5 separate regions of the Homo sapiens genome follow, and regions 1, 2, 4 and 5 are each linked to region 3. The links come from fine-mapping of genetic effects on gene expression. A gene starts in region 3. Each other region holds a variant in brackets. All regions are shown on one strand. Distances are from middle to middle.

Region 1 (5,103 bases), 82 kb after region 3:
TTTACTATCTGGAAGGCTAGTCAATCTTTATTGCCCTTTTTAAATGGTTTTCTATTTTTGCATGTTTATTTTTCCATTTGAACATTCAAACCAACTTGTCTAACTCCAGTAAAAAAAACTTGGTATTTTTATGGATTTTTTTTTTTTTTTTTTTGAGACAGAGTCTCGCTCTTGTTGCCCAGGCTGGAGGGCAATGGTGTGATCTCAGCTCACTGCAACCTCTGCCTCCTGGATTCAAGCAATTTTCCTGCCTCAGCCTCCTAAGTACCTGGAATTGTAGGCACCCACGACCATGCCTGGCTAATTTTTGTACTTTTAGTAGAGACGGGGTTTCACCATGTTGGCTAGGCCGGTCTCAAACTCCTGACCTCAAGTGATCCGCCTACCTCGGCCTCCCAAAGTGTTGGGATTACAGGCGTGAGCCACTGTGCCTGGCCTTTATGGATTATATTAAATGTACATAGTAACTTGAGGAGAATTGACATCTATATGGTATTGAGTCATCTTGTCCAAGAACAAGGGTTGTCTTTTTATCTGCTCAAGTTTATTTTTGTGAAAACATATGAAGTCCTTAGTTAGAAATTTTGCATCTTGTGCCAAGCAACATAAATACAAATAAACTCACACATAGACAATGTTAGTGAAACTACAGATTACTAGGGATAGACAGGAAGAGGTTCAGAGCTGCCAGGGAGAATATATTGATTACTTACAAAGCAAAGACAATTAGGCAGACAGCTCATCATTAGTTGCCAGAAAACACAAAACTGTGGAGAAATAACAACTGTCAATCTAGAATCCTATACCCAGATAAGTTATTGCTCCAGTGTGAGCACAAAATAAAAATATGAAGGAACTTCAAAAACTTTATGGGAAAAAGAAATTAAAAGATAAAAATAAGAAATGTAAACGTTATTTCTCAACACAAGCTCCATCCAGTTAAAGACGTGTTTGTAGGTGATGATATGTAGTCCATTCCTAAAGAACTGAGGATCCTGGGAATTTACCCATGTCAATGCAGTATATTTAATATTATTAACTGAAAAAAAAAATGGGTACCCTTTCAAGATTTTTAGATTAGGAAACAAAAAGAAGTCAGAATGAGCCAAATCAGGACTGTAAGGTGGATGCCTAGTAATTTTCCATCAAAACTCTCACAAGATTGCTCTTGTTTGATGAGAGGAATGAGCAGAAGCAATGTCGTGGTGGAGACGGACTTTCTGATAAAGCTTTCCTGAGAGCTTTTTTGCTAAAGTTTGGCTAACTTTGTCAAAACACCCTCACAATAAGCAGACGCTGTTGTAATCTAGCCCTGCAGAAAGTCAACAAGCAAAATGCCTTCAGCATCCCAAAAAGCTGGTGCCATGACCTTTGCTTATGAGTGGTTCACTCTTCCTTTTGCTTGGACAGGACCACTTCCCCCTCTTGGTAGCCATTGCTTTGACTGTGCTTTGTCTTCAGGATTTTACCGGTGAAGCCATGTTTCATCTTCTTTGAAGACATGCTTCAGGATCTTGATCCCACTTGCTCAAAATTTCCACTGAAACTCTGTCCTTGTCCGTAGCTTATCTGGGTGCAACAGTTTGGTATCCATGAAGTGGAAAGTTTGATCAACTTTGATTCCTCAGTCAGAATTGTGTAAGCGGAACCAAGTGAGATATCTAAGGTGTGGGCTATTGTTTCTGCTGTTACTCTTTGGTCCTTTTCAATGAGGGCATCAACAAGATTAATTTTTTTCTGGTAAACTGATGTAGGTGGTCTGCTGGTACAAGCTTTATCTTCAACATCATCTTATCCCTTCTTAAAACAACTTATTCATTTGTAAACTTCTGATTTCCTTGTGGCATTGTTGCCATAAACTTTTTATAAAGTATCAATGATTTCACCATTCTTTCACCCAAAGTTCATCATAAACTTGATGTTTGTTCCTGCTTCAATTTTAGCAGAATTCATGCTACTCTGATAGGGTCTCTTTTCAAACTGATGTCTTATCCTTCTTAGGGCCACAAACTACCCATTTTAAAAAAATGTACAGGTACTGATGAAAGAACAGAAAGATAAGCTGTCATTTCCAAAACAGTAGAAGAAAAAAATGAGAATAAAAAAATTTCATCAATTCATAGAAAAAAAAAGAGAGGGAGACAAACATAGCAATAGAAAAATACAAAATAAGATGATAGAATTAAATCCCAATATAACAGCAATTACAATAAATGCGATTCGGTCAAACTCACCTGTTAAATATCAAATTGGATTTAAAATATAATTCCATACTGCTTATAAGAGCAATTAACACCAAATGTCTTAGAAAGGGTAAGATTGTAAGGTAGCTTTCAAGTTAACTCTTCATATGCTGTAGGTTTCGGTTTTGGGCTTTTTTGTTTGTTTTGGCAAGAATTTATTAGGTTGGTACAAAAGTAATTGCAGTTTTTGCCATTGAAAGTAACGGAAAACAGCTATTTTCTAAAACATTTATTTTGGAAAACAGCTGGTTCAATAGGCCCATCATACTAGTCTTTGGAGTGGGTTGATCTAATTCTGTCACCCAGCAGTTACTGTTCCTTCAGCTTCCTGGCATTTCCCCCTTTGGTCAGCCTCAAATAGTTTCAGAAGGCTAAGGAAAGAGCCCTAAGGCATTCCGCTAGAGACCCTCAACTCCGTAATAGTCCGTATTTGAACAGTTTCATTCAACAAGCTGCAAATTCACCTGGCCAGTCTCTCTTTCATCCTGCTATGTTTCTTTCTTGTTCAAAAATGTTAACATGCCAGGACTTTGACCTCCATGACACAAAGAAAACTCTTGCTAATAACAGACTTACCCGATCACAAGTGGCTTTTCTGTAAAACCCCAAACAACCTAAACCCCTTTTCTGAGTGGGAGAATGAAAACATCAGCTGTTGCAGAATAGACGGCATTCCTGTTGCTTAATTGGCACATCACGTACCTCCTGTACTTCAGAATGCCTTTGATGTCTGTTCTTTTGTTTTCATTTTTTTTTCAGTTTGCAGTAATTGAGAAATAAAGGTTCCAAGTCAAGAAACAATATCAGAACAAAAGCCA[A/T]AGCTGCACTCCAGTTGTTTGGTGTGTTTGAAATGCAGACTTCTTAAGTTCACCCAGAAGTTCTGCCAAAGTACACCAATAATGCACCTGTCTCTTTCAGCTGCGACAAGAATAATTAATTACATGAAAATGACTTCCATCGGAGGTTAACTTATTTTGGCTGACAGTCACAAACGTACACAGACATGTCTTACGCTGCAGTTAGGCAGAGCTTTATTTAGAACATTTTATTTATATCTTGGGTGATTTCGTTCCTAAGAAATTGAGGAAGAGAAAGAGGAGATGGTGCAGGAATGCAAGAAAGGAACATTTCTCATCATTTTTTCTTTTAACAAAAGCGGGGAAAAAAGACCAACGTCATAGCTAAGAACTTGACTTTCTCCCCAGAGTACTGTAGAATTCAGCCACTTTAGAGAGGGGTCAAGTGTACTTTGGGGGATGGGAAAGGGTGCAGGGCAAAAGGAAGGTTGCGGGAATTGACAGGTTTTCTCTGGTGTAACTTTAGGGTCTTCATTTACTCACTTTCTTCTGAGAGGTTAGGAGTGGGACTTGATGTTTCTACCATACAGACAAGACAACACGAATGTAGTACCCCTGAATCAGCCCACCCACCCTTGACAAGTGTTACCTCAGCCTCCCTGGGAGCCAAGAGGGACTCACTTTTGCAAATAGCTAAATTTTATTGTGGGCTTTGTTAGGGGCCAGGCATTTGCAAGCATCTCATTTCCTCCTCACCCCAACTCTCTGACATAGGAACTACTATCATCCCCGTTTTATGGATGGGGGAACTGAGGCTTGGGAAGGTTAAGAAACTTGCCCAAAGTTGGCCGGGTGCAGTGGCTCATGGCTATAATCCCAGCACTTTGGGAGGCTGAGGCGGGTGGATCACCTGGGTCAGGAGTTTGAGACCAGCCTGGCCAACATGGTGAAACCCTGTCTCTACTAAAAATACAAAAATTAGCCAGGTGTGGTGGTGGGCGCCTATAATCCCAGCTTCTCTGGAGGCTGAGGCAGAAGAATCGCTTGAATCTGGGAGGCCGAGGTTGCACTAAGCCAAGATCACGCCACTGTACTCCAGCCTGGGCAACAGAGCAAGACTCCATCTCAATTAAAAAAAAAAAAAGAAAATTAAAAAAAAAAAAAAGAAACTTGCCCGAAGTTGCACAGCCAGTCAGTGGCAGAGCTGGATTCCCAGCCCAACCACTACGCCACACGGTCTCTCTGTCACTGTTATTTTTATCAATCAAGGGGTCTCACATCATCCCTGGAAGATCTTTTAAATTCCTGATGTGTTTCCCTGAGTATGTGTGCTGGGTTTTTTTTAAATTTCAGGCTGGGGTAGCAGCGCTGTCTGTAAATGGAGAAGAATTCTGAGGCTTCAGGTAAGGTTTAGCTTACCCTCTGCTTCACCTGCATATAAAGAGGGCAAAGCCAAGGTGAGGGGCCACTGCTTCTGATAATCACCTTGCAAGCCCTTCCTCCTCAGCAATCCCTTATCACAGTCAGCCTGACTCTTGCAGTTGCAGTAGGCTGTTAGTCACGATGGGGGTCAGCTCAGGTTCCTGGGCCTGCAGCCATTAGCCTATAATAATAGTCACTGTTACCATTGTTACTATCTCCTACTTATTTTTTTAAGATGCGGTCTCACTCTGTTGCCCAGGCTGGAATAACACAATCATAGCTCACTGCAGCCTGGAACTTCTGGGTTCAAGCAATCCTCTAGCCCCAGCCTCCTCAGTAGAGGGACTACAGGTGGACACCACCACACCTGGCTAACTTATTAAGTTTTTTGTAGAGATGGGGGTCTCGCTATATTGCCCAGGCTGGTCTCAAATTCCTGGGCTCAAGCGATCCTCCTGCCTTGGCCTCCCAAAGCGCTGGGATTACAGGTATGAGCCACTGTGCCTGGCCACTCCCACTGCTTAATTGTTTCCTCCATGCTAGAATTTAAATCTGGATCTGCAAATTCCATTTCCACCAGCTACTAGCCTTGCAGTTTGGAGGCAGGTCATTTCACCTCTCTGAACCTCGGTTTCCTCTTG
Region 2 (5,103 bases), 170 kb before region 3:
AAACATGAATCAGGTAGAATCAAGGAAATAATAAAAGAGCAAAAATAAATAAAGATTCAATAATTCAATAAAACCTTTGATTCTTTGGAAAGTCTAATAAAATCAATAAACCTCCAGCAACATTGATCAAGAACAAAGAAAAAGGCCCACACAAATGCAAAAAGACTTATAGATACACATAAAATTTGTGATAACTGAATATGCAACTTTAAAAATAAAGTTATTTTTAAAGTTGAATATATTTAAAGAGAATATGTAAATATGATACTCCTAGGTTATTTTTCTAATAATTACCATAGTTATGTTCTCAAAAATTTTCCCCAAATTGAAAAATAAGAAAATGAAGCTCTCATTTATAAGAGCACTAATAATATATTATGCCTAAAATACATTAAAAGGGATGGAGTGAATCTATCTCAAAAAATAAGTCAACACTCTCATCATTTATAAAATTTATAAACTTCTAATCAAAACTCCAAGAAGTTATTTCATAAAACATAAAATAACTCCCAAATTAATCCCAAAGAATAAAGGGGAGGTAATGGCCATGAAACTTCAGGAAAATAATGAGGGATATTTTCCCTGAAAACATTAAAATATATTACAAAAGGATAATACTTTATAATTTTTTACTGATACAGTGATTTAAAGACAGATTAGTGGAACAAAACAGAAAATTCACCAACAGCCTAAAGTTTCCTAAGGAGTATGTTGCAAATCAATAGGAAGGATATAATTCAATACATATGGGAAACTGTTTAGGAAAAAAAGTAAAGGCAGATCTCTAACACACACCATAGGACAAAACACTGTATGTAAGGATTCAAACACCTGTGAAACGAACAAATCAGTAAGAGGAAATACAGATAAAATTTCCATCCAACTTCTCATGATACGTTTTATATATAAAAAACCATAAAGCAGGCCAGGTGTGGTACCTCACACCTGTAATCCCTGTGCTTTGGGAGTCTGAGGTGGGAGGTTCACTTTAAGCTAGAGGTTCGGGACAAGCCTGAACAACATAGTGGGACTCTATCTCCACAAAAAAATTAAAAATTAGCTGGGTGTGGTAGTGTGTGCTGAAGTCCCAGCTACTAAGGAGGCTGAGGCAGGAGAATCCCTTAAGCCCAAGAGTTTGAGGTTGCAGCGAGCTATGACTGCACCACTGCACTCCAGCCTGGTGGACAGAGTGAGACCCCCATCTCTTAAAAAAAAAAAAAGAAAAAAGAAAGAAACAAAACCATAGGCCGAGCAGGGTGGCTCACACGTGTAATCCCAACACTTTGGGAGGCCAAAGTGGATCACCTGAGGTCGGGAGTTCAAGACCAGCCTGGCCAACAAGGTGAAACCCCATCTCTACTAAAAATACAAAAATTCACCAGGTGTGGTGGCGCACGCCTGTAATCCCAGCTACTCAGGAGGCTGAGGCAGGAGAATGGCTTGAAGCCAGGAGATGGAGACTGCACTGAGCCAAGATCGCGCCGCTGCACTCCAGCCTGAGCGACAGAGCAAGACTCTGGCTCAAAAAAAAAAAAAAAAAAAAAAAAGGAGAAAACCATAAAGCAAAAATGAAGTGTTAGGATATTTCAAGCTACAAATAGGAAATCTCAACTAGCTTAAACAAGGAAGTACTTTAATGGCTCATGTAATTCCAAAGTACAGAGGAAGGTCACAATCAGACTCATTTGATCAGTCTTGTTCCATTTCTCTGCCATTCTCTCAAATCTGCCCTCTTCTTGCACATGCTAGCTTCTTCAGCCATATGGCTTCCCTCACGCCTACAGAGTCTCCGTCCTTAGGCCTGCATGCCTCACCAGTTAGAGGAGTTCCTCTTTCCCCACTTACTGCCAAAAGCCCTAGTTATACACCCATCTCTTAATAGTCACGAATACCACCCGCTAGTTAGATTAGGCCTGAGTTCCCAGTCAGCCACCTTGCTGGGT[G/A]TATGACTAGGGTCAATCGCTGGGCCTGGGGATGAGGTCATCCAAACCAAACTCCAGCCTCAGTGAACGGTTACAGAGGAAAAAATTCGAGGTTGGAAAAGTTCACTACAAAGTGACTGACAAAATTAACTATATAAAAATACTAAATTTCAACATATAAAATAAATCCACCATTAACAGAATCAAAAAACAATGGCATAGGTAGAAAACACATATGTATTCTGAAACAAAATAATGATAAAGTCCTATATGACCCCAAACTTTTTGGTAATAAGGTATTAGAAGATTTCACTAAGTTGTATCATTCGGCAGAAATGTAGAAATAGATTACAATGAGAACAATGGCATAATAATCTAGGAAAAAGTAATGTCTGGTTAAAGGAAAAGAAGTACTGGAACTACCACTCACCTTTTGCTGAAGACATAGCCCTGGTAGTGTTAGATGCGACCAGGAGCGGTAACGGCAACTGAAAAATATTGTCTATGTATAAACAGCAAACAGCTGTGGGTGATGGAATCCTGTGTAATGTTCAAGTCACTGGCATTAAAGAAAGCCATAAAAGGTGAAAGCAGATCAGAAGAGTAAGAGCACAGGAACAGTTTTCATATGCATATCGTACCTTTTAGGAAGCTCTCCAAAACCTTTCATGAGTGAAACGGAATATAAAGAAAATTAGTCACTTAATCTAAAACAGAGAGAAATTGTTTGAAAATAGGTTTTAAATTGAGTTTTAAAATATGGGTTTTAAAAATACAGACTTTTTGATGATGAATAGGAAAAGTTTTAATTACCAAAAGATAATAAGCAGGAAGTATAAACAGCATTTAAAACTAAATTAAAGCTACTAAATGCTAACAGAATTTTAAAGGGAAAGTCAAAATGTTTAATTAATGGTTTGGGCAGGAATCCCATGTCGCAATGAATAAGAAGTACCACATGATGCCACAGAGAGCCAGAGAGGCAGCTCAGGTGATTTTTAAATGCAGTTCCACTATGAAACCGTGCATCTGTGGAAGACTGTCTTGTACAAATATAATATACTTCATTCTTTTGAGTCAATGATTCATAAATCTTGACTTGAGAGTTAAGTAAATTTATTTACTTTTAATACCATTCTCCCCTGGACTTTCATCTGGAGGGGGAAAACCTGGCCATAACATAATCATGTCATTTGATTTTTATACAATCAATGAGAAATAATTTCTTTCCAATGAAACATTAATAATCAAAATAAACTTCACAATTAGAAAAGACGTTAGAGGAAAAAGAAAACTAGGATGTGAAGCATCTCCTTTGTCCTGCTTGATTTTTGCGAAATCAAGTCATCGCAGCACCAAGTGAGAGAGACGTGCTCCAAGGGTGGAAACGCTGCTCTGGAGGAGCCCCACACCCGAGGGGGCTCAAAGGAGGAAGACTGGAGAATGAGCTGCTATGAACCAGTGCGAATAGGTGGGGCAGTTAAGGGGCAGGGCTGGGGAGGGCTCCAGAGAGCAAGAAGCAGCACTTCCAGACAGAGGGGAGAACAAGTATCCAAGGAAGGGCCAGGCCTTGAAGACAACAAGAAGCAAGTGACACTAAAGAGCAGGAGGGAGAGTTCAGGTTCCAGACCCTGGAACTAACTAGTCATCAGCTTCTACATAAGGGAGAGAATGGAACAAGGGGAAGGAATCAAAGAGCTTTAAGCAAGAGGATATCATGATTAAATGTGTTTTAAAATTATCATCCTGGTTGCCATGTGGAAAATGGACGGGAGAGTACCAAGTGAATGCAGGGGTATCAGTTAGGATGATACAATGGGTCAGGGCTGGACACGGTGGCTCACACCTGCAATTCCAGAATTTTGGTAGGCCAGGAAGGAGGCTCACTTGAGCCCAGGAGTTCAATACCAGCTTGGACAACATAAGGAGACCCTGTCTCTACAAAAATTAAAACATTAGCCAGGTATGATGGTGCACACCTATATAGTCCCCACCATTGAAGAGGTTGTGGTAGGAAGATCGCTTGAACCCAGGAGTTCCAGCCTGCAGTGAGCTATGATCATGCCACTGCACTGCAGCCTGGGTGACAGAGTAAGACCCTGTCTCAAAAAATAAAAATAGAAGTAATGACCCAGGTGCGAGATGGCAATAATTTGAATATGATGACATTAGAGGTGGAAAGACATGGATGGGTTACAGAGAAATGTAGGAAGTAGAGGTGGCAAGACGGTAACAGGTAAGACACAAAGTGTGAGGGAGAGGTAAACGTCCAATGTGATAGAAGACTGTTAAAGGAATTAAAGAACAATGAACATGTCAAGGGTAGGCCAAGGGACTGGAGGGAGAGACTGAGTGGTGAGATACTGGGGTTGGTACTGGACAGGAGGGATGTGAGGTGTCTTTAAAACATCTGGTAGAGATGGCCGGGCACAGTAGCTCACACCTGTAATCCCAGCACTTTGGGAGGCTGAGGCAGGCGGACAACGAGGTCAAGAGACCGAGACCATCCTGGCCAACATGGTGAAACCCCGTCTCTACTAAAAATACAAAAATTAGCTGGTCGTGGTGGCGCACGCCACCACTACTTGGGAGGCTGAGGCAGGAGAACTGTTTGAACCCAGGAGGCAGAGGTTGCAGTGAGCCGAGATTGAGCCACCGCGCCCCAGCCTGGGCAACAGAGAGACACGGTCTCAAAAAAAAAAAAAAAAAAAAAAAAAAAAAAACACCATCTGGTAGAGATGTCAAGTTGACAGGTAAAGGGACAGGCGCATGATACCACATGGCAGGCAGCTACCCTCATTTTACAGGTTAAAGGTGGATGTCCAAAAATATCGAGGCATTTGAGCCTGAAAGGATTGGTCTTTCAGCCCAAACTATTTGGGCTCCAAAGTCCACATTCCTTCCACTACCCTTCACTGCTGTGGTAGCTAGGAACATACGCGAATTTGGAGAGGAAAAAAAAATTAGAAAAATATAGGCAGACCATACGGTGGTCTAAAATTTTCAGCTCATGTTCATCACACTCCCTGAACATTATTACACATATTAACCTACTGTGGGAGCCAGGGCTCTGTGTAGGAGGCAGCAGCAAGAAGTAGAAGGAAGGTAACTAGAAAGATAAAATGGAAAAAAAAAAATAATTCAAGATGTATTAGTACCTGGACCCAGGAAATAAAAGGTA
Region 3 (5,103 bases):
GCACGTTTTTTCTCAAAATACACGACCTAGCCTACTTACATGAGGTGCAGAGAAATTAGTCATAGCTTCACCTAGCTACAATGTAATAATATGGTACTTAGGAGGCGCTCCAACGTAGTGGTAACTATTCCATTTAGAATGTTACATCTGATAAGATTCAAGAGAATGCACTCCTGCACATATGACCAACTCATCATCCCATCAGAAATCTCTTATAACAGCACCAGAATTTTCATTTTCAAGATACATGAGCTTTTGTCAAATGGTGACATCTCCTCTGTAATATGAATTTTCAATACGATATAAAAAAAGATGGATATATTACACATTTCACAGAGCAAAGAGAACAGAAACCCGTCAATGAACTTAAAATTTGTGACAACCTATCTGAAATTTTACACTAAAAGATCTGTACACTTTCATAAGCCATATAAATGTAAAACAGGTACCAATGTTTTTACTGCCAAAAAGGAATAAAATATTCCTAACAAAGTTCGGTTGTTGCCTTAATATATTTTTAAAATGTATTTTCATTAACATTTCAGTTGTTAAAATGCAATGCTTTACACAACCTTCAAAGTGCAACTGATAAAAACTTGAAATCTATGTAATATACTTCAAAACAAAGCCACTGGCAGATTTTTTCCCCACCATTTCAGTCTGTGCACCAATCTTCAAATGTATGAACGTACAGGTCTTAGTGCAAAATGCAAGTCACTGTTTAAAAAAAGAAAACTTAATAAACACATTATTTTAAAGGTCATCCTAAGTGATTTAGATTTCTTCACTTGAACCTGGTTGCTCTAACAATCTACAGATCCCACTGTACAAAATGACTTAATAAATGCTTTTCTTCCAGAGTAAGTCATTAAGCAAAAAGCACAAATAAGTGAAATGAAAATTTTCCAAGTAATGGAGGAGTTAAATTAACCAGAAATATGGCAATTTGTTTTCATGTAGTAAAACATAAGAGGGAGCATTTATGAAAGCTGGAGGGGGGTGGAGGGGCACAATTTAGATAACGTTACATAAGCATCAATAAAAAAAAGTATGAGTTCGTTGTTAAGCTATTGGATGATAGTTTTGAGCTCAGACCTTTAAAATGTTACAACATTTAAGTCATGTTACTACACATAAATCATCTTCACAGGACACAGAACACAGCTAATTTAAGTTTAATGCTCTCATCTTCGCCAATCTCAGAATATCGAGTTCCTTACCATGATTGTTCGTTAGCTGTATCTTGGAATACAACTAAGTTAATTTTCCTAAAACTACCATCAGCAAAACCAGTTCACTAATGTGTTTTAAAGACGTTACCAAAGGACGTATTAAAATAGTTATTTCTGGGTTGAGGGGGGTGTTTTGGTTTAAAGACCAGCAAACTTCAAAAGAAAACGATGCTAGCTGGCAGGGGTACGTTACGGGTTTTGTCGGGGGCGGGGAGGGGGTGGAGGGAAGCCCAGATTTGGGAAGGAAAGCTCGTTTCACAAGAGATCCCATCTCTCGTTTCAAAAGGTCATTTCCATTCAGCAGATCCTCTTTCCCTATTTCAGAGCTCACCACTGTATTCTAAACAGAAGCCAATAGAGGGAGAAAAACAAAGCCAAGTGCAAAAGCTGTGGGCACTGAAAGTTTTGCTCCACCGGCCGCGCAGCACCCACTTGGGGTCGGGCTTTGGGACTTGGGGGAGTCAGGAGCAGGCGGGGGCTGGGGAGAGGACGAGGCCCTGGGGAGGGGCTGGAAAAGGCTTTTCACAGCGACTGGCACTTGATATTTCCAAGTCTTCTGGATGTCACTCACCGGAAACCAGACCCTGCGGTGCGAAGACTCAGGTACAGACCAGCCCCTTTTTCATCCATGCAATGGGAAGGGGACTCGGGCATCCTTTTAAGGAGCTGAGAAATGGGTCCTCAACTTAAAAATTTTTGTTTGTGCTACTGCGGTATAAAAAAAATAAAACGCAAAGTAGCAGACGGGGTGCAGGCTCTACGGGGCTCCGTTTCCCTCTCCTCCGAGTCTGGCGTGGAGGAGCCCCTGGGCTCCCTAGAGCCCCCAGCAAGGCGCATCCCGACCCGGGCCGGGAAGCGGGGGGACCCCGGACACACTCTCGCTGCTCAAGTTCGCGCCTCCGCGCCCCGAGGCGACGCCCCCGGCCCGCGACCCCGCGCGCACCTACCTTGCGCCAGCGCCCGGAGCAAGTGCAGCTGCAGCGCCAGCAGCGCCCACCAGCCGCGGCGGCCCGGCCCCAACTTTGCCGCCCGCCGCCCGCCGCACCGCCCCGCGCCCGCCGTGTCCCCGCCGGAGGTCTCGGGCGCCGCCCGGGGTCGCGAGGGCTCCGGGCCGGGGCGCGGCGCCAGCGAGGGGCGGGCGCGGCCGGGCGGGGATCCCCGCGGCCGCCCGGGGCCCGCGCGCTCAGGGGGCTCCGCGCCGCCGCCGCCGCCACCGGCCGCCGAGGGCCGGGCGCCCCGGGCCATGCCGAGCAGCCGCCACCCCGAGCGCCGCGCCGGACGGACGGGCGGGCAGGACAGGCGGGACGGCTCCGAGCGGGCGCGGCCACTCCGCGGGAGGCGCGGCGCCCCCCGGCCCGAGGTGAGCGGCCGCCCAGCGCTGAGGGGCGGCGTCCTGGGTCCCCGCGTGAGGGGCGCGGCGCGGGCCGGGGACGAGCCGGGCGAGAAGAAGTTGTCAACGGGGGAAATTCGCGTCCGGCGCTCACGCAGTCCCGAGCCCGCCGCGCTAGCTCCGAGGGGTCCGCCGGGCGCGGAGGAGCCGCCGCCGCCGCCGCCCCCGCCCGGCGCTGAGAAGAAAGTGCGCCCGCCCGCACGTCGCGGTCGCGCTCGCCCTCAGCTGCCGCGGCCGCCGCTCCCCATTCACAGCCCGGCCGCACGCGCCGCCCGCGCCCGCCGCCCGCCGCCCGCCGTTGATTGGCCGAGGGAGGCGGCGCCCGCTCCCAGGGCCCGCCCCCCAGGCCCTCGCTTGTTTTCAAAGTCGCGGCGCCCGCCCGCCTGCAATTTTGTGCCGGCCGCGGCGCCTGGCTCGGGCGGCTTCCCGCGCCGGCTGCGCCCCCTAGGGACCCGTAGTGGGGACTGCAGGCGGCGTCGATTCGGCACGCGCTCCCGTGGCGGGCTCGCGGGCGGGGGTGGTGCATCCTCGCCCGGCCCCGCAGCGGTGCGGGCGCCCGAGTGGGAAGGGCTCAGGTGCAGCAGGACGCGCAGATCGTGCGGCAGCCCAGGGCCGAGGGCGGAATAGGGCGCGCCCCGAGAGGCGCCCGGCTACCACCAGCTAGCTCAGTGCTTGGGGGTGACGCGCCAAGTTACCGTAATTGCAAACACGCGCAATCGGGTTTTTAATTTCTAGCAACCAAAGGCACCACTGGGTGCAAACTCGCCTCCTGTTCAGAGGAGTGGATATGGCATTGTAGAAGCGTCCAAGGTCACTTTTGGCCGGCGCTGGAGGAGGGCGGGGTAGGGAGGGACACATTGCAGGTTTCCCACCGTGGAGTGGGCGAGTCTTGGGGCAGGGTCGGCCAGTGGGAGGGTCTCCCAGGGCGGGACCCGGGAGCCTGTGGGGCTGGGGGTGGGGACGGGCGCCGACGCTCAGCATGTGGTAAGCATTAGCAGAGTTTATGGGGTGAACTAAGCGCACTGGAGGCTGAAAGGCCAGCATTTTTGTGGGAGGAGAGCTGGAGGTGACACGCACTGCCTCTGGAGTTGGCCCGGGAGGAGCCTGGGGACGTGTGATGATGGTCGCATGAGATCATGTAAGAGATGAACGCAGAGGGGCTGGGTGTGAGCCCAGCACGGGGCTGACTCCCCAGGAATCACCTGATGCAGTAGGTTTATTGTCCCAGCCAAGAAAGACCCCGGGCGAGTGGAGAGCAGGTCACAGGGCTGGGGTCTGGGATAGGAGCCAGCTCCTGCTCACAGAGCGCCTATGGTATTTGTCAAATAACTGATTGGTGGCTCAATATTAGCCTCTGTACACGTCCCCTAAGACTTAACAATGACCACGTGAACAAAACAGGGAAACTGAGGTCCAAGTACAGCCGCCGAACAGGAGGTGGTTTCAGAAAGAGGCCTCCCATCTGCCCCCTTTCCACACCATGCTAGGAGGGGCAAAAAAGTTAAAGGAGCCACGGAGTGCCCTGTTCTGAGGATATAGTGAGGGCGCATAGATGGGACGAGCCGGAAGAGGACAGCTCCCCAAGGACATGGGGATGAGACTGGAGGCAGAGAGGCATGTCTGTTTTTATCTTCTGTTGGTAGCAAGGCTGGGTTTCTTCAAACTTGCAAGATTATAATGAGAACCTGCTGGGCGGGGGGAAGCAATACCTCCTGTGCAGTGAGCACTCACTGTAGGCCAGCCCAGGGCAGCAGCAGCAGCAGCTTCACTACCTGCTGTGTGAGAGGTGCTGGCCCTGGTACAGATGGAGAAACTGAGGCATAAAGAAGTGGGCCGGGCGCGGTAGCTCACACCTGTAATCCCAGCACTTTGGGAGGCCGAGGCGGGCGGATCACTTGAGGTCAGTTCAAGACCAGCCTGGCCAACATGGTGAAACCTCGTCTGCAGTTAAAAAAAAAAAAAAGAAAAGAAAAAAGAAAGAAGAAAATGAAGAAGAAAGACAGAAGAAGAAGATGATTAGCCAGGCGTAGTGGCGTGCGCTTGTAGTCCAAGCTACTCGGGAGGCTGAGGCAGGAGAATTGCTTGAACCTGGGAGGTGGAGGTTGCAGTGAGCCGATACCTTGCTACTGCACTCCAGCCTGGGCGACTGAGTGAGACTCTGTCTCAATAAATAAATAAATAAATAAATAAATAAATAAATAAATAAATAAATAAAGGAAGTGAAGTGTTTTGCCCAAGGTCGGGAGCTCACCTCCCTTCCTCTTCACCCCAACCACCTCTGCTTTGCTGGGAGATAGAGGCTGGTGATCCAAGAGTGGAGTCATGGGGCTTTGAGGTCTCACTCAGCTCCGCCCTTTGTAGTTGTGAAATTTGGGCAAATCGCTGACTCCAAGTTCCTGTAAAAAGTTAGGAATAATTCCCATCTCCAGGGTAGTAGACAGAGTGAGATAATTCACACTCAGTAAATGCTGGTTTTCCTTT
Region 4 (5,103 bases), 55 kb after region 3:
GACTTAATCTCGCTCTGTCACCCAGGCTGGAGTGCAGTGGCGCAATCTCGGCTCACTGCAAACTCCACCTCCCAGGTTCAAGCTATTCTCATGCCTCAGCCTCCTGAGTAGCTGGGATTACAGGTGCCCTCCACCACGCCTGACTAATTTTTGTATTTTTAGTAGAGATGGGGTTTCATCATGTTGGCCAGGCTGATCTTGAACACCTGACCTCAAGTGATCCTCCCACCTTGGCCTCCCAAAGTGCTGGGATTACAGGCGTGAGCCACTGTATCTGGCTCCAGATTTCTCATTTTTAGTGAAGTGACATGATTATTATTATTTTGAGACAAGTTCTTGCTCTCTCACCCAGGCTAGGGTGCAGTGGTGCAATCTTGACACACTGCAGCCTCAAACTCTTGGGCTCAAGCAAAACTCCCACCTCAGGATCTTGAGTAGCTGGGATGAGCGGCATGGGCCATGATGTCCTGCTAATTTTTGTATTTTTTGTGGAGATGACGTTTCGCCATGTTGCCCAGACTGGTCTCGAACTCCTGAGCTTAAGCCATTCCCCAACCCTGGCCTCCTAAAGTGCTGAGATTGCAGGCATGAGCCACCGTTCCAGTGATATTATTGGCACCTGCATTTACATAAACCAGGATGCATTTGGTAAAGCTCCTCTTTGAAATTCCTGCTTCTGGCCCAGCCTCATCTAGGTCTAGTGTGAGATCTGTGCGGAGTAAAGAAAGTTGCCACTTTAACACATAGTTTGATGTGAAAGACAGCCAACAGCTAACCTGCCTTTTCCTGACAGTTACTCTGTGTAATTGAAACCTTTGTTTCCAGCGTGACAGGCAGAGCCCCAGCTGATAGAACAAAGGTGCTAGGACCTTCTCTCCTGGTGGCACCATGAGGCTCTGGTTTGGGCTTCCTGATTATACTAACTTTATCAAGTTCTTTCAATACCTTCCCCCCTTTTTCTAGTCTCTGAAACTGTTTTCATAAAATGAGGGCTTTCTATTCTTCAAAGCTTTGTTGTAACTTGCCTGGAAAACAATCTGTCTTTTGTCTGTGTGTATGGTGGGGGCGAGGGGTGGGGGAGGTGTGGGAGTGGTTGTGGGAGAACTTTTGATTGCCAGTTCAATTTCTTTAATAGTTGTTGATTTATTTCATATTTAAAAGATCTTCTTGGCTCTATTTTTTATTTTATTTTATTTTGCTCTGTCGCCTAGGCTGGAGTGCAATGGCATGATCTCAGCTCACTGCAACCTCTGACTGATCTCAGCTCACTGCAACCTCTCTGCCTCCTGGGTTCAAGTGATTCTCCTGCCTCAGCCTCCCGAGTAGCTGGGATTACAGGCGTGTGTCACCATGCCTGACTAATTTTCTTTGTGTTTTTAGTAGAGACAGGGTTTCACCATGTTGGCCAGGCTGGTCTCAAACTCCTGACCTAAGGTGATTCACCCGCCTTGGCCTCCCAAACTGCTGGGAGATTTTATTTTTTGAAACAGGGTCTTGGTCTGTTGTCCAGGCTGGAGTGCAGTGGGGTGATCATAGCTCACTGCAGCCTTGAACTCCTCGGCCCCATCGGTCTTCCCACTTCAGCCTCTTGAGTACACCTCCCAAACACAGCGGTACACCACCACACCCAGCAACTTTTTTGATTTTTTGTAGAGATGGGGGTCTCACTATGTTGCCCAGGCTGTGGGTCCATTTTAGTAGTCTTTTTCTATAAAATTATTCATTTCATCTAAGTTTTCAAATTTGTTAGCATAAAGGTATTCATTGCATTCTCCTAATTAAAAAAAAAAAAACTCAACTGCATCTGTTTTTATTTATTATTGCTATTATTATTATTTTGAGATAGAGTCTCACTCTGTCACCCAGGCTGGAGTGCAGTAGTGCATTCTCGGCTCACGGCAACCTCTGCCTCCCGGGTTCAAGCGATTCTCCTGCTCAGCCTCCTGAGTAGCTGGGATTACAGGCACGCACCACCACGCCCGGCTAATTTTTGTATTTGTAGTAGAGACGGGGTTTCACCATGTTTGTCAGGCTGGCCTCAAACTCCTGATTTCGTGATCCACCTGCCTTGGCCTCCCAAAGTGCTGGGATTACAGGCGTGAGCCACGGTGCCTGGCCCTATTCCTGCTATTATTTATGCCTTTGTACCCCTCTTTAAAAGTCAATCTTGCTAGAGGCTTGTTTGCTTTCTTTGTTTGACTAAAAAGTCAGATTTTAAAAATCCTTTCTCCTTTATCTTGGTTTTCTATTTTACTATTTTCAGGAATGTTCATTTTTTTCTCTGTTAAAATACAAAAATTGCAGTCATTCATTGCATTTGTTAATGTATTTCCTGGATTTTTGTGCTGCCTCTTGTTTCTTTCGTCTTTGTTCACTTTTTTCACTTTCCTCTGACAGTGAGCACCTGCTCATAAGAAACTCTCTTATTTGTTGTATATCTGAAAATGTCTCGGTTTTGTCTTTACTGCTGAATGATAGTTTAGCTGGATATAGAATCTCAGGAAAGGCATTTGTAAGGAAATGTTTGTCATTGTGCTTATCGCATTTAATAATTATATACATTGTGTGATTATATTTTGTCTTCCAGCAGAATGATTTTTGTTTGTTTTGTTCACTGTGTATCCCTGTCCCCGGAGCAATGCCAGGCACATCATAGTCACTCTGTAAATAGGTGTTGAATAAATGAATGTGCAAGTCAGTGAATTCCTCACTAGGCTGTCTGTTCTCCGAGGGCAAAGTCAGCTTCTTCCTGTTCCGGGCTGAGTTCCAGTGTTTTTTCTGATGAAGTAGGAACTAGATAAACATTTGTTGTAGAAATAAATGAATTCACCCAAGATCTAAAATAAAATAATAGGAATACTACTCTTAGAAACTAGTGCCTTTTGAAGAGGCAATCTTCTGATCTTCTAGGTCTACATTTTCTTAATTTTTTTTCCCCCACTGGAATTAGTAACAAGGGAACTGCAGGGGCAGACTGTGGGCTTTCATGAGAGCAAAGCCCTCTTTTCAAATATCTGTTCTAAGGAGGATCAGCTTTCCAGCTTAACTGGGAGGCTGGCTGAGTCCTCATTTCTAAACAGATG[G/A]CAACACATCATTGCTGGTGGCTCCTTTAAGGCAGAAAGGCTGTCAAATCAGCAAAGATGACTTCCAGATACAGCCTGCACAGAGAGGCATGGCGACTGATAAAATATTCATTAGTGACTGCTGTGGTTGCAGGGAGGGCCTGTGCTGCAGGGAGGCCTGTGCACAGAGCCAGCTGAGGTCCCAGTGTGAGGAAGTGCATTAGGGTTTTGCAGTAAGGCCCATTTAGGAAGGAGGCAGGGGCCTTTGAGGCCTATTGTGCCTGAGAGCACTAATGCCCTTCGATCTGGCCATTTATAAAAGAGAAGGAACCATTAGGTCTCGGAAAAGATGCCTGGCCTGCACCATTTAGAGGACACAGGGGTCACCTATGTGTCAACGAAGTGAAAAGGTCATTCATAAAGCCTTCAGTCTGTCAGCCCTAGAACCCAACTCATCATTTCTGGGTTGACCACCATGCTCCTCCACTGTCTGGTTATGTATGACAACTCTCAACTGGACATACGGTCACATGTGTATAGTCCCAGCAGTCCCAACTCTGGGCTCGTTTTGTGGACACAGATGGCCCTCTGTCCCCCTCCAATAGCCCCCTTTAGATTGGATAAGGGAAATCATGTAGCAGCCATCTTTGGCCAGTTGGTGACAGGGCTACAATGCTTGTCTCTGCCCTGGGTCACTCACAGGACCACACAGTTTATTGACAGCAAATTTTGGGAGGGATCACAAAAAGAGGAGAAAAACAAGTCTCGGCACAGTGGCTCACACCTGTAATCCTAGCGCTTTGGGAGACTAAAGCGGGAGAATTGCTTGAGCCAGCTCAAGACCAGCCTGGGCAATATAGGGAGAACTCCATCTCTACAAATTTTTTTTTTTTAAATTAGGTGGTTGTGGTGGCACATGCCTGTAGTCTCACATATTGGAGAGGCTGAGGAAAGAGAATCACTTGAGCTCAGGAGTGAAGGCTTGAGCAAGGCTTCAGTGAGCTATGATTGCACCACTGCACTCCAGTCTGGGCAACAGAGCAAGACCCTGTCCTCCTACCCCCTAAAAAAAGAAAAGGAAAAAGGAGTTTTAAAGATGCCAAAACTAATGCATTACCAAGATTTTTAAAAAACATATTTTCCTTGGCTATTGGAGAACAAGCCTTTTTGCAAATCACGTCTCCTTTAGCCATGACGTTGACTCTGAAACATAGAAATATAAACAGAGAGAGAGAGACATTCCTTCCAAGTACTGGTTTAGAGACAGGCAGAACACAGTTGCTGAAAGAAAAGAGGAAAAATCAGAATCAGAAAAGCACATTATTTTTTTGAGGCATCAAAGTAGGTTTTCCAAACAAAATAGAGTGCTATTTCTTTGCTGAGGGGGTAAAAAAAAAAAGCCATTGTGGAACATACTTTATAGTCACCCTTTAATGTGGATACATGACAAAAATATTTCTGCTACTCTTTACTCACATCGTGCCTCTGACCAGTGGTCCACTGTTTGGTCCTGTTTTTCAGAGACTCCCAGCTTTGGTGTCCTTAAGAAAGGGACTTACTGACTTCATGCATCTTTCAAGCAAAGATTAACAACAATGATAATAGAGTAATAAGTTGGCCTGGAATCTTGGCAAAACTGAAAACCACATGTTCTGAGAGTCTCTTCCTGCGCTGGTAATTAAGTTTCTTCCCCCTACAAAATGAGACTCTTTTGGACCAACAGGCGTTAGGCATGTGGACATCTTGATGGGATCCCATCTTCTCTTTTGAGGATCAAATCCTGGCCAACTTTGTTTGATGTTCAGAGCCCTGTATGGGAGTCAAAGCCTGCTAATAAAGCAGTCGTGCCTGTTTGGAGTCATTCTACAGCTCAGGACTTCATCCCAGGAGGGAGGTGTAGTGGGTGACTCACTAACTGTAATATAAACAACGACAACAAAAGGGTCTCTGAGTCACACTGACATTGTGGAATCAAACATATATCTCTGTGCCCTGACCCCCACCAAGGATGCAGTCACACGGATGTCCAGTTATCTTCTAA
Region 5 (5,103 bases), 900 kb before region 3:
CAAGAGGTTGGGGTGGGTCCTGGGGAAGCCTTCCAGTAAGCGGGGGCCACTGAGTGTAAGGTCAAAGCGAGGGGGTGAGCTGAGTTCTGGGGCGAGCTGTGCTGGGTGGGAAGGTGGAAAGGCTCCCTCCTGGAGGAATCAGGGAGAAGCTGAGGCTACTGTGTATGGACGGGGACCCCTGGCTGCTAATGTTGTTTGGGAGACGATGTTTAACATTTTCCTGTTGCTCACCTAGAGTATGAGCATTGCCTCGTTAAACAAAGCGCTGTTGAAGATAAGTTGTGAGGACGGAAGGGAAGCTGCCCTTCAGCTGCCGATGATGTGCCTTTCCTTGCAGACCTAGCTCTGTTGGTGTTTTGATTTTTGGCCTCTCCCTCTCCCCCATCTTCTGGAGAGAAGGGAAGCCGCCCCGTGTCCACCCCCTGCTCCGAGCTATGGAGACAACAAACCCCCAACTCCTACGATGTGTTCCCACATTTTATTCAGAGCCGACATCTAAGTTTTCCTCAATATGGCAATATACTTTGGAGATTAAAGCAATCAAAAACAACAGGCAGGAGAACTATGTTGGGCTCAGGGCTGCTGGGAAGGCCTCATTCCTCTGGGGTGCCATTTCCTCTTGTCTAGCTTTTATGTGCTTGTAGTTGAACTTGACGCCCAAGCACAAAGGTTTAAAGAGGTTGCCAGAATTGCTTCCCTAGACAGCTGGCCGGAAACCACTGCTACCTCCGACCAGTGCCAGCCAGGCTGCCCAAAGACAACACCAATCAGAAGACCCACCTTGGCTCTGTGGGTCTAAACCAGGGCCAGGCTGTTAGAGCGGCTTGCCCATGTGAAAAGGCAGCACGGAGGCTTCGGGGAGGCAGCCTGGAGCGCCCCAGGGCTGGCACGCCTGCCTCGCACACCCGCCCGCCTTGCTCTTGCTGGGCAGGCCCTGACTGGTGAGCATCGTTCATTTCCACCTGCAGGATGTAGTGGGCTTCTGCTCACTGAATTGACCGTCTAAGATCTTCCGCTCGCCCAGGCCTTGCTAACTTGAGATCAATATCCAAGATCAGTGTCTTTATCATTAAGGAAATTAGAAAACATATTTTGGACATACATAAATAGCGCCATGCCTCCAAGCTCATGGGGCTCTCCATTAGCTCATTCATCACTGTAACAGCCCTGCCATGGAGGAAGGTATTAATTTTCATAACACACCTGCAAAAACCATCTTTAAATGGACATTTAATCGGTCCAATAGTCATTAGGGGAGGCTAGCCCCCAGAATCTGATGACTGATCGACTTGGGTCCCAGCAGAATAGACAGGGGAATTTATTTAGGAGAAGGATGGGGGCGTTTTCATGGCAAAGACCCCGGATGCTTATGGGCCCTGTACTCTCTAAGGAGGCCAGGCCTCAGGGATGGGACGTGGAGAGGTGCTTCCCGCCCCATGGATAACCCAGCCCCACATAATGATTCCTCACTCGACGCTCTCCTGTCATGGCCTGCTGCCTTCCTTTCTCCCCATCTCTAGACCCTCCAGTGACAATGGGCTTCTCACATGTTACCGTGGCGGTTCTCAAAGCAGGGTTCCCAGGGACCTCACATCTGGGACCTTGTGAGGAATGAGACTGGCGGGCCCCACCCTGGACCGACCGAATCAAGGGACTCACTCAGTGTCCAACTGTGACCAAGGGGGGAGCTGGGATGGGGAGCCTGGTCTCTTCCAGGCGCCCCATGTTCTTTTATAGTCAGCCAATGTACTGGGGGCTCCAGAATGGGCCCAGGAAACGGAAGGGTTCCCCAGCCAGGCCATGCGTCCAGAGTGGGGAGAAGCCAGTGGACAAACAAGGGCCCCCAACCTGGGTTGTTTTGTGGTGGGCACAGCCAGGTGTGCAGTGAGCCTGGCCCCTGTGCTGCCTCCCACCCACAAGCAGCTGTGACCACAGTTAACAGGCCAGGTCTAGCCAAGCTCCGACGCTTGGGCCCCAGCTCTCCAGGTGGAGCGCCTGCGGGGTCTGCTGCTGGCAATGCAGTAGGCAGGACCACGTGAACGAGGGGTGCCCAAGCGAGCCAGGGGAGGCAACCGCACGGGAGGGCCTTGCCTTGTAGCCTTGGATGTTCCCATTCTGGCTCTCCGGGGGTGGTGGGTCCCACGTGACCTCCAGCTGGCTGGCCGTGAGTGGGGTCACCTGCACGTTCTGCGGGGCCATGGCCGGGGCTGAGGAAAGAGCAATGCGGAGAGAAGCTGAGACGTTCATTCAGAGCCGGCCCGGACCCTCGCCCACATGCCCATGGGGCTCGAGCATGCCCTAATTCCGCTGGGAACCATGTGAGAGATTCTTCCCTGGGCCGTCGCCCTGGCTTAGGAGGCCTTAGACAGTTATGTCCTGGGATCCGTGGCTCTGTGTCCCCCTAAGAGCTCTCAGCCCTTTTATGCCAGGGAAGACCACAAATCCTTCCCATACGATGTTCTTAAATGCATACAATAAAATATATAGAATTGCACAGAAAAATAATTATACCGAGATACAGTTAGCAGAGTATTTGAAACCAAAGGTATGAGATCGTAATCCACGTGCTTCTTGGTTAATACCTGACCAGGCTTAGGGGCTGGTCTGATGGTTGCTGTGAGATCAAAGCATTGGTGGGTGAGGATGTTAACTTGAGGTCCCAGCAATGCCTGGGATGTGACAGGGTCACTGCGGCTCTATCGGCGAGGGAGTCACAGGACTCCTGACTGCTGTGGTTTTTGTCACTAATATTACTGATTGAGATTAGAGAAAAGATAGCTGTGTTCCCATGACAGGTTCAGGCATCCCTGGCTATGAAGCCCTGATCTAGATGAAGTTCGTCCAGATACACAGAGTTGCCCCTCTAAGAGGGACAGGAAGCTCCGATGTTTGAGAACATGGCTGCACTTTGCTCTCTGAGGCCAGCTCTGGCTTCACGTTCTGAGGATCCAGTCTTCCCCTCCAGCCCCCTCGCTCCCCCTGGGGAGGAGCTCACTGGGGTGCTGTCTGCGTCTGCAGGGCTGCATGGCACACGCAAACCAAAGGACACAT[G/C]AGGATGTTGCGGCCGCACCTCCGCGCCTTACCACACCGCCATTAGGGGTGTGGCCGCACCTCCGCACCTCACCACACAGCCATTTAGGCAGTTGGGAGCACACGCCTGCGTTCCAGAACGCCTCCGTCCTGTCTGCCCCATGCCAGCTTCACACTATCTTTGAATTCCACGCTGCGCACTTTCTCTTGACGGCCTATTCTCTGCTACTCCCTCCTCCCACTGGGGCTCTCCCGGCTGTCCATGAGCTGGGCCCTGGGGAGCTCCAGGGCAGCTGTGCAGGGGGCCTGGCTCCCGGAGGCAGAGGCCAGCCGAGCACTCCTCTCCGCCTGCCGCCGGGGCTGCGGCCCAGGAGTGCAGCCTTTTGACTGAGTGTCTTTACGGACCATCGATGGAGACGATAAAACAGTCGCTGTCCGAGGGAGATGGCCCAGCACCCGGCTCTCTGGAGAGGCCTTCTTGGGAGAGACTGACCTCAGGACTCGCCCCTTCCCCATCACCCCCTCCCCACTTTCTGCTCTCTCCCCCCAGCGCAGAATAAAATAGTAATTAACACCCACTCAGCCTGACACCAACTATTTATTTTGTTCTAACTGTGTGGTTTCCGTATTATCACTGCCCACCCTGCCGTTAATGGAAATGTTAATAGCCCACACCAGGTTGTTGTGACAGATGCTCAGCCTCATTATCAGAAATTCTTATTTACCGCCCCATTAAACAGCAGAATCACACAAAAAAACAATTCAATCAAAACTAACTGGAGGAATTTTAACAGCCACATTAATAATCCAAAACATAAATAAAGTTAATGTCTTTTGCATGTTTGCCATCGGCAACTCCATTGCAAAATTACTGTTGTACAATTAAAATGTGAAAGGCAAAATTGAGCGCGGCCATTACCCTGGTAGTCGGTGAGACATCGCCCTCCCCCCGCGACAGCCCCAGGGTTTCTTTCCAAAGATGGCCCAACTCAGCGCGCCCACGACAGCTCTGGACTTGGATATCCGCCTGTAGGAACTGGTGGGTCTGTGAGCGCCAGGTGAACCCCCATAAATTAGGGGCCCGCATGCCCCTTTCTCTGGGGTGGAGACGAGCTGGGCAAAGGCCCATGACCCTGTCTCAGGCAGCTGAGCCGCACTGCCGTGCCTACCAGCAATGCTACAGCAAGGCACTTCTGGACCGTAAAATTACTGCAGGCAACAAAGCATTTTTTGTTGACACCAGCAGGGAAGAGAGAAATATATGTCAACGCTGAGCAAAGCGTGTCGGTTTGGAGACTTCTTTTTTGCTCCTGAAAGCCGCTGGGTCTCCACCCTGACAGGAGAACCTGACTTTCAGGAAGGCTCTGCCATTGACAAGCCCCGGTGCAACTCTCCTTCTCCGTAAAGCGTGTGCAGTTTGGGAGACACGGAGCATCTGATTGTCGTTCGTTTTTTGTTTTCCCACCTTAGCATTTGCGGTGTAAGGATGACATACATACCAGCTTGGAAGCTTTTTTTTTTTAAAAAAAAAATACATGAAATTATTTTTAAAAAGCATTTTAGACCGGCAATTGCTGGCGTCTGCTGCTAGGGAGATTGCCTGCAACTGGCATTTAAAGGGAAAGGTGCAAAGCTGGGGTTTTCTCTGGGGTCTCACGCTAAGGCTACGATGCCATCGCAGAGCTGAGTGACTCAGGTCCTTGGTGTGATGGGTCCTGTACCCTCGCCAGGGGGCCTCTGCGGCCTGGGAGAGGGATCTTGCTGAGGCAATGAGAGACAAGCTTTCAGGACTTCTGGAGGGACCCTCACCTGACAGCCATCGTGGAATTCCTGACATTTCTGAAATGTTCTGGAATTCTGGCTGGTTGCTTGGATGGCCTTGCGTGGCTGGGCGCTGGGGCCTGAGCCGGGTTATGGCGTGGCCTCCTGCCTCTGCGGGAAGGGGTGGGCTGGAGGCTGCAGCCAAGCCCCAAACGGCAGCAAGGACGGCATTCTGTCGCCTCGCCCAACCTCCCTGTGCTCGCCGTCCCTAAGTGGCCAGCGAGCTTCAGCTGGATCAAAAGCAGCCGCTGG

Direction of the effects. Alleles are on the strand shown, and positions count from the first base shown. SD is a standard deviation of normalised expression in the study named. Not every link is listed here.
For the expression in transverse colon of the gene that starts at base 2,812 in region 3, A is the low allele of the variant in region 2 and G is the other (small effect, 0.25 SD a copy in GTEx).

The links. PIP is the estimated chance that this variant, and not a neighbour inherited with it, causes the effect. A credible set is the group of variants that fine-mapping cannot tell apart.
Region 1: its variant is the best candidate, but not a certain one, in a credible set for the expression of SDK1 in thyroid (GTEx, PIP 0.83).
Region 2: its variant is the best candidate, but not a certain one, in a credible set for the expression of SDK1 in transverse colon (GTEx, PIP 0.51).
Region 4: its variant is the best candidate, but not a certain one, in a credible set for the expression of SDK1 in lung (GTEx, PIP 0.68).
Region 5: its variant is the best candidate, but not a certain one, in a credible set for the expression of SDK1 in blood mononuclear cells (TOPMed, PIP 0.86).

The regions. Positions count from the first base shown.
Region 1 is chr7:3,216,815-3,221,917 of GRCh38, reverse strand. No RefSeq gene overlaps it. Among named protein-coding and RNA genes, the nearest start is that of SDK1, 82 kb to the left of the region's middle. The variant A/T (reference allele first, on the strand shown) is at 3,062.
Region 2 is chr7:3,473,634-3,478,736 of GRCh38, reverse strand. The region is part of intron 1 of SDK1 (sidekick cell adhesion molecule 1); the gene reads right to left. Among named protein-coding and RNA genes, the nearest start is that of SDK1-AS1, 120 kb to the right of the region's middle. The variant G/A (reference allele first, on the strand shown) is at 1,944.
Region 3 is chr7:3,298,961-3,304,063 of GRCh38, reverse strand. SDK1 (sidekick cell adhesion molecule 1) reads right to left here and starts at 2,812. Exons shown (of 45, transcript NM_152744.4): 1 at 2,180-2,812. The coding sequence starts at 2,477. SDK1-AS1 (SDK1 antisense RNA 1) reads left to right here. Exons shown (of 3, transcript XR_001744897.3): 1 at 1-1,835. RefSeq lists enhancers at 2,011-2,511, 3,221-3,732, 3,733-4,245 and a silencer at 2,786-3,335.
Region 4 is chr7:3,244,447-3,249,549 of GRCh38, reverse strand. It overlaps SDK1-AS1 (SDK1 antisense RNA 1), which reads left to right. Exons shown (of 3, transcript XR_001744897.3): 3 at 4,584-5,103. Among named protein-coding and RNA genes, the nearest start is that of SDK1, 54 kb to the left of the region's middle. RefSeq lists an enhancer at 4,458-5,103. The variant G/A (reference allele first, on the strand shown) is at 3,084.
Region 5 is chr7:4,202,983-4,208,085 of GRCh38, reverse strand. It overlaps SDK1 (sidekick cell adhesion molecule 1), which reads right to left. Exons shown (of 45, transcript NM_152744.4): 36 at 2,092-2,207. Among named protein-coding and RNA genes, the nearest start is that of FOXK1, 480 kb to the left of the region's middle. RefSeq lists enhancers at 1,598-2,097, 2,098-2,599, 4,679-5,103. The variant G/C (reference allele first, on the strand shown) is at 3,052.